Linked DNA regions of Homo sapiens: all the other regions are linked to region 1. The links come from fine-mapping of genetic effects on gene expression. A gene starts in region 1. Each other region holds a variant in brackets. All regions are shown on one strand. Distances are between the middles of the regions.

Evidence for each region. PIP is the estimated chance that this variant, and not a neighbour inherited with it, causes the effect.
Region 2: its variant is the best candidate, but not a certain one, in a credible set for the expression of UROS in whole blood (INTERVAL, PIP 0.64).
Region 3: its variant is the best candidate, but not a certain one, in a credible set for the expression of UROS in whole blood (INTERVAL, PIP 0.54).

What each region holds. Positions count from the first base shown.
Region 1 is chr10:125,822,048-125,824,808 of GRCh38, reverse strand. It overlaps UROS (uroporphyrinogen III synthase), which reads left to right and starts at 1,551. Exons shown (of 10, transcript NM_000375.3): 1 at 1,551-1,780. BCCIP (BRCA2 and CDKN1A interacting protein) reads right to left here and starts at 1,263. Exons shown (of 7, transcript NM_078468.3): 1 at 1,087-1,263. The coding sequence starts at 1,251. RefSeq lists silencers at 499-718, 1,475-1,904 and enhancers at 1,195-1,394, 938-1,623.
Region 2 is chr10:125,918,662-125,921,422 of GRCh38, reverse strand. The region is part of intron 1 of FANK1 (fibronectin type III and ankyrin repeat domains 1); the gene reads right to left. Among named protein-coding and RNA genes, the nearest start is that of FANK1, 23 kb to the right of the region's middle. The variant A/G (reference allele first, on the strand shown) is at 1,652.
Region 3 is chr10:125,778,998-125,781,758 of GRCh38, reverse strand. No RefSeq gene overlaps it. Among named protein-coding and RNA genes, the nearest start is that of MMP21, 4.6 kb to the right of the region's middle. The variant T/C (reference allele first, on the strand shown) is at 1,241.

The DNA.
Region 1 (2,761 bases):
TGTAAATGAACTAGAAAGCCAATGCAGCAATCTAAGCAGAGGCCTGAGATCAGACCTATAAGATCTCTCTGACTGTAAGTGGAGTATAGACTGATTGTAGGGGAACAAAAATGGAGAAAAGAACGCCGGTTAAAAGCTGTTACATTAAATAGTAGTCCAGGCAAGAGATGATAGAGGTGTGGACTACGATGGTCTCAGAATTAGTGCTGAGAAATGTCTGGATAACAGGATTTACTGATGGGCTGGATATAGGATGAGGAAAGGGAGGAATTAAAGTTAAGCCCCAGGTTTTGGGTTAGAGCAGCTGGTGACTTTAGGGGCCATTTATAGAAATGGTGACGATTAAGAGAGGGGCATGAATTATTATACAAATTCTGCTTTGGACAAGTTAAGGCTGAGGTATCTATTTAAACATTCAGTAGGCTGAAGGATCATTCAGTCCTAATTGTTTACTAAACAAATAATAAGTACCTATATTGCCAGGCACTACGGTAGGACCTAGTCTGAAGAAAGGAACACAGTTCTATGAGACTATGAAACCAAAGATTTACCCACGACTTGGTCAGCTGCCCCAGGAGCCAGAAAATACAGCCTAGCTGAGATCTGAAGAAGGAAGGGAAAACTGCAGGATAAAGAAGAGCATTTGAAAAGGCTTCTACGGTAGAACGCGGCAAGAGCCTTCAAGAAACTGAGGGCCCAAGTGAGTGCCGCCCGCAGAGTGAAGAGGAGGACAGCTGCTGCCCCGAGGGGAGAGGGCCCCCTCTGCGAGCCCGGGGTGGCCGATTCAGGATCTGAGGCTTCAGCCTGAGAACTAAAGAGGACGAGAAGAACACACCTGTTGTGGCGGGCTTTTTCGGGGAGGACGCGGGTTGGGAGATTAACTGGACCGGACTAGACCTTTAAAAAATAACTACTATGGCTGCAGTGTGTTAAAGACCGAGGAGAAACCTGAGAAAGAACTTATCTCCAGTTTCTCCTCACAGACCCTCAGGGTCAGGGAAGACCCTACACTATTTTTACACAGCCTGGGCTTGCCAAAAAGTTTTTCTCAGGTATAAACCAACTAGGGGAGCGTGTCCTTCTCACCTCGTCAATGACCTCGTCCTCTTCATCCTTTTCCTTGTCACTGTCATCATCGTCTTCATCCTCATTTTCGACTTCTTTTTCCTCTTCCTCGTCGCGCTGGACTGGGGGATCCGGCGGCTGCGGAACCCCACTTTCCACGGCACGCCGCTTAGACCTGGACGCCATGTTGCCGCTCACACTGCGCCTGCGCAGCTTCCCCTTGCCTGACCTTCCGGACCAGCCCATAGTAGCCAAGGGGGTGAGGAACTACGAAGAAGCTCGGCGCTGAGTGCACGTCAACCCCAATGCCCCTGCTGGATTCCGCAGCCATGACCCCTTACAGTCACGTCCAGCTTGCGGTCCCATCTTGCTTTTTTCTTCCGCTTTCCACCCTCCATCACTCCTCCCAAAGCTTCCCCTCCCCTTCCCGTAGTGGTTCAACCCATCTAACCTCTGGCCTCATTCCGTGGCCTGGATGGCGGTGCGCATGCGCGAGCGCCTAGCTGCGCGCAGCCACCCACGCGACCCCAGTCTGAGGTGCGGGGTCCTGGGGCCCGGCGCGGGTGGCCGCCGCGGCCCCTCGGGCTGCGTGGGGAGGGGGCTTCCGCCCCTGTTGTCATTGCTCCTGCAGCCTTTTCGCTGGGACTGCGCGACACCGCCCCCCGACCGGGTGCCCGCTGTGTGCCAGGCCGGGTGCTGGGCACGGTCCCGCGAGGTAGGTGTCGCCGCCCGCTGTACCGGTACGGACGCCGAAGCCCGCGGGCGTGCAGGGGCCCGGCCCCGGGCGGTGTGTGACACAGTGGGGCCAGGGCCCCGAGGCTTCCGCGGACCTGGGCCTGCCCAGGCGGGGATGTCCGCTGCCGCTACCGCTGCGCCGGTGACGGAAGGCGCCTGCCCAGCCTACCCTCGCCGAGCTTCTGGAGCGCATTTCTTGACCTAAAAGTTTTTTTAAAGCCGGCACCGCAGTTAAAAATGCTTCGGCGGGGGGCCGGGCCCGGTGTCTCGCGCCTGTAATCCCAGCACTTAGGGAGGTCAAAGCGGGTGGATCACCAGAGGTCAGGAGTTCGAGACCAGCCTGGCCAACATGGCAAAACCTCATCTCTGCTAAAAGTACAAAAATTAGCCGGGCGTGGTGGCGGACACCTGTAATCCCAGCACTTTGGGAGGCCGAGATGGGTGGATCACTTGAGGTCAGGAGTTCGAGACCAGCCTGCCCAACATGGCGAAATCCCATCTCTACTAAAAATACAAAAACTAGCCAGGTGTGGTGGTGCGCGCCTGTAGTCCCAGCTACTCAGGAGGCTAAGGCAGGAGAATCGCATGCCCCCAGGAGACGGAGGTTGCAGTGAGCCGAGATCGCGCCACCGCACTCCACACTCCAGCCTGGGCGACAGAGGTAGACCCTATCTAAAAAAAAAAAAAAATGCTTCGGGGCCAGTGGGGTAGTCTAGGTTAAAGACCCGAGCCTATTTGGAGAGAAGAGTGGAGGGGACTGCGGCCAACTGCAGAGCGAGCGCCAGCCCCTGTGGCAGGTGGGGATGCAGCCTGGGGCAGCCAGGTCTTCCCATTGCGAGAGAAACAGGGTTCATCAGCTTTCTAGGAATAAGATCTGCGGTTCTCAATTGATTTTTCTCTGTAAAATGAGGGGGGTGGGTTGGATATGTTTGATTCTAGGAATGGTGTGAGCTGCGCTAAT
Region 2 (2,761 bases), 97 kb before region 1:
ACAAACCAATAAGCAAACCATGTAGTATTTATACAATGGATTACTATTTGGCAATAAAAAGGAATAACTGTTGATACAGTACATGAAAGTAGCCAGACTCAAAGGCTACAGCCTGAACGATTCCATTTGTATAAAATTCTGAAAAAAAAGCAATGCTAGAGGAACACAGATCAGTGATTGCCAGAAGTTTACAATGGAAGGTTTTACTATAAAGGGCAAGGTAATTTTTGGAGTGATCATATAATTTTGTAATCTACCAAAAACAAACATAATACATGGGCAGATAAGTTCACGGATTGGAAAGTTCAATATTGCAAAGGTCTCCCAAAAATGACCTATCAATTTAATCCCAGTGGAAATTCCAACCAGTTTTGTGAAGGCTGCTAAGTCAACTCTAAAATGGCCAAGAATAGACAAGATCACCGGAGAGGAAGCAGGAAGGTGGACACAAATATCTTCTGATTGATGAGTGAAATCATTAGAAGGCCAGCAAAAATACAAGTAAGCCAGAATTTCTAAAGCACCACAAAAGAACACTAGTTAGTAGTGCATATAGGTATCTCCCAAATTTGTTGTAAACATAGGCTTTTAAAAAAAATTAGAAACTGATATTTAGAGATATAAACTCATATTAAACCTTTTAAAAAACAAATTCTAATCAAGGGCCTCACCTAATTTCATAAAAGGTTGTACAGAACCAACCATTGCTGCAAACGATGTGCTGCCCTGAGATGTGAGGATCCCAGTGGTTCCTCTGGGTCAACAGCAGCTACAGCGGCTGAGCCCAAACTCTGATACATTATCTATCTACGATCATTATTTTTAACAATTTATATCAATGCTACCCATAAGTCACAGAGAAGCAGAAATGTTTATGTGGCCTCCTGCCAAAAACAATCACTTGCACTTATTTCTAGTATTCCAGAAGACAGTATTAGAAGTTTTTCAATTTAGAAAAACATTTACAGCAAAGAAAAAAATCTCTGTAAATTTCCTGCTTAACCAATCTAGTGAATTCTGATGAGCCATATAAATTCATTTAGCCACCTTATGAAAGACTTAATCCAAAGTCACTTCTAACTTCTAGAAGAGCTAATGTATTATAATCACAGTTGTGAAAGACTCAAAGGCCAGAAATGTCAAGGTTTGGTCTATATCTTAAGTCCAGAAAAAAAATAAAAGCAACATGTACAGGCCAAATGATTGCCAATTTTTTCGGCCTATGTCATCCTTCTTCACTATAGCCTGAAATTACATTTCATGTTTGACAGTTCTCAGCAAGGAGACAAAACAAGCTTATGAGTAAAATAACAGAAAGCAGAGCCACAGAGAGTACGAGAGACAGGAGTCATCTCCCAAGTCCAAGTTCAACCTCTGTATTATTAGACAGGGCCTCAGTGTCTTTGAACTGCAAGGAATTAATATTGATTGTAGCATGAGTAAAACCTATCTTCTACTCATCATGAAAAGTCACAGTCGTTTTGTTTAAAGACTCCAGAATTACTATAGGCAGAAACAAATAAGAAGGTTACACACCTACTGTTTGGTGAAACGAGGAATCAGGAATGAGCATTCCCAAGAGAATACAATTACAAAAGTAAAATCATCTAGAGTTTTTGGGCTGCTTAGAAAGCCCAGAAAGAAGTGCCAA[A/G]TGAGAAAATAATCAAATTCAGTGGAAAAACTCACTTGAGGGTATCATGGTCAGCTGCGTTTCCACCCCTTTGATGCACTTCAAATCCTGTGTATTCCACAAAGACTTGCTCCTTTCTAAAGGCTAGGGTTCACGTTCAACAGAATAACAGCAACCACCATGAGCCTCAGGGCTGGCTAGTCTTTAGTATTCTGCCTTATTCAAAGAAATGAGTCTTTCCCTCATTCATAAAGATCTCCCAGGTCCATTACAAAAAAAGGAGCAGCAGCCAGGCGCAGTGGCTCACACCTGTAATCCCAGCACTTTGAGAGGCCAAGGGGGGAGGATCACCTGAGGTCGAGAGTTCAAGACCAGCCTGGCCAACATGGTGAAACCCCAACTCTACTAAAAATACAAAAATCAGCCGGGTGTGGTGGTGTGTGCCTGTAATCCCAGCTACTAGCGAGGCTGAGGCAGGAGAATTGCTTGAAACCGGGAAGCGGAGGTTGCAGTGAGCCAAGATCATGCCACTGCGCTCCAGCCTGCGGGACAGAGCAAGACTCTGTCACAAAAAAAAAAAAAAAAAAAAAAAAAAAATTCTTACCTCCTGGAAGTATTTTACTAGTGTTGGTTTCTATTTGACATTAAACACTTCCCCAGGCCAATGCATTAGCAGTTAGCTCCTTACTGAATATTATCTGTAGCAAACAGTAGCTGACTCCTAGCTCTCTTCAGTGAACTTGAATTTAAATTTATAGAATTCTCATGACTTCTATTTCATCTTGAAACCCAGAGACTCCTTCCCTTTCCTAGTGATTTACCTTTCAATTATATGTAGACTGAACCAGTCCCAGCCATCTTTAGTTGGTCTCTATTCAAACGTACTTCTGTTTCTTGATTACATCTTCAATTATTTTAGTTATTTCTGAGATTCTCCCCTGCAATTTCTCCAACTATCTAGGGCATAAAGAGTGCATGAATAACATTATAAAGCCTATGTAAGACTTCAAATAAATAATCTTTCTGAGCCTCAGTTTCCTCATCTGTGAACCAGGAATAATATTTACTGAACAAAGTTGTTCTAAGGATTAGTGAAATATATGTAAAGCACTTAGCATTTAATAGGTGATC
Region 3 (2,761 bases), 43 kb after region 1:
CGATGAGCATAATTCTCATCCGGAGGCCAGGAGGCCTGGGTGTGCCTTGGCAGAGAAGTGCAGGTGGGTAGTGAGCGGGGCCTCCCTCCCGCAACCACTGAGCAGCCTCCATGTGCATCCTTTGCAGGGAGGAACAAGCCCCAAACGCAGACTCTCATGTGTGTAAAACACAAGCAGTTCTCCCCAGGGAGGCCGAGGGTCCTATGCCGGCCCAGAGATGGGGAAAAGGGTTTATTTGTGGATGAAAAGAGACCAAAATGCAGTCTGGAAAGAAGGGAATCAGGACAGACACTGGGAAGGGTCTTTCTGTCTCAGGCACGCTATGCAGCTGGAAACAACAGGCCTGCCCTGGTGCTGATGGCATCACTCCCCAGCACCTGGGCCCCCTGAGCTCTGCTCACTTTCAGAGTCAGAACTGACCCCTCATTGAACATAAGGCTCAAAGATCTCCTGTGGGAATGACTGTTTCCAAATATTATTGTCCAACTATACTAAGAATATGCAAATCCAGGCTGGGTGCAGTGGCTCATGCCTGTAATCCCAACACTTTGGGAGGCCGAGGTGGGCAGATTGCTTGAGCCCAGGAGTTCAAGACCAGCCTGGACAACATGGCAAAACCATACCTCTACAAAAACATACAAAAATTAGCTGGGCACGGTGGCTCACACCTGTAGTCCCAGCTACTTGCGGGAGGCTGAGGTGGGAAGATCACTTGAGCCAGAGAAGTCACGGCTGCAGTTGAGCTGTGACTGTGCCACTGCTCCTCAGCCTGGGTAACAAAGTGAGACCCTATCTCAAAAAAAAAAAAAAAAAAGCAAATCCACTTTGTAAATGATGAATGTTTTAGGGGAAAAAAACTTCAGTTCTCCCGCTGACAATTAGGTTACGCATGTCATGGCTTACAGAGATTGTAGAAGCTCCAAGCCAAAGCCTTGCCCCGCCTCAGGAACGGGAGGTGGTCTGCACAGACCAGGAACCAGTTTGTGCGGGAGCCCCTGTCCCTCATGTTGTCTTTATTGTAGGTCACGTGTCTTCCTCTGACATTTTCCCTCCTAAATCCAATTGATTTCCTTGAAATCCAATTAACCTGGAGTGAGCAATTTGGTTAATCAAACATTCTCAGCCTTGAGCAGCCAGTACATTCCAAAGCTTAGTAATAATCGGAGAGAAGAATCCTCCAAAAGAAGAGCAAACATCCACATGGTGAACATACTTCCCCAAGTCAAGCACCCAAGCTGCA[T/C]GAGGCCACCGCACCATAAAGTTTCTTAAAGAATAATAACTTTAGGGAACAAGACCCTTCAGTAATGAAGCCCTCAAGCCTGTGATCTCTGTCTTAGTCCATTTGTGATGCTATACCAAAACACCTGAGACTGGGTCATTTATAAATAATAAAAATTTTCACAGTTCTGGAGGCTGGCAAGTCCAAGAGCAAGACTTGATGTCTGACGAGGGCCTGGTTTCTGTTGCCAGATGGTGCCTTGAACACTGTGTCCTCATATGGCAGACGGGCAAAGGGCTGAATGCTCTCTGAAGCCTGGCTTCTAAGGGCAGGATGGTAGAGCCTTATGATTCAATCACCTCCTCAAGGCCCCACCTCTTAATACGGTTGCACTGGGGATTAAGTTTCAACATGAATTGTGGAGGGAACACAAACGTTTAAGCCACAGTAATCCCAAAGGGGAATCATCTTACCCCACTGGGGAGAGCTGTCATGCAACTTTTCAGATTTGACTTTCAGAAGCACAGTCTTTGACCAGAGCTGGTGGAATGGACAGAACTGCCAGTCTTCAAACAGAACAAGGATCGTGGTGGGTGCCCAAGCTCCTCCTGAGCACCCCTTCCCAGCATCCCAGGTCCCACCTTTCCCCCACAGCATTCGGTGTGGGCCCAATGAGGAATGGATCCCCTGGGTCACAGTGTAGGACTGTGCCTTCCCCGGAAAGCCCGGTGTCCTAGAGCCCAGGAAAGTGTTCTAGGGTGCGGCACAGTCAGAAAAACAGAGAGGAGTTGATGATAGCCAGAGGGTTTCACCCCAGGAGGCACAGCCTACACCAACCTCAGAACTGCACAGAGGTTCTTTAATAAGTAGCCAGTCCTGGCATTGTCCACTCAAAATGTTCCACCTGAACTTACAGTGAACCCAGACTCCTTATTTGCCCTATGGGTCCTTCCCCATCTGACCTTCACCTGCTCCTCTTCATCCTCCCCTCCCAGCTCACTCCTCCCACTCATGTCCAGCCAGGCTGTTCTTTCTTCCCTACTATTGTAGGTTTGCCCAGCCAGTCCCAGCCTCAGGGCCTGTGCACTTGCCCTTTCCTGGCCTAAAATGTACACCACTCCCGAACCCCCAGTCACATGTGACTGAGTCCCTCTGATCTTTCTGCTACTGCCCAGATTTCATCTGCACAAGAGGTCTTTCCTGCTCACCTGAACATTCACTCTTCCCCATAGACACTCACTTTCCCTAATTCTATTCCTAGCACCTGTCACTATTGGAATTTTTCATTTCTTTTTTGTTTATTGTCTGTCTTCCCTACTTAGGATCTACATTCCATGAGGGTAGGTGTGATGGTTAATACTGAGTGTCCACTTGATTCGATTGAAGGATGTAAAGTATTGATCCTGGGTGTGTCTGTGAGGGTGTTGCCAAAGGAGATTAGCATTTGGGTCAGTGGGCTGGGACAGGCAGACCCACCCTTAATCTGGGTGGGCACCATCTAATCAGCTCCTAGAATACAAAGCAGGCAGAAAAACATGAAAA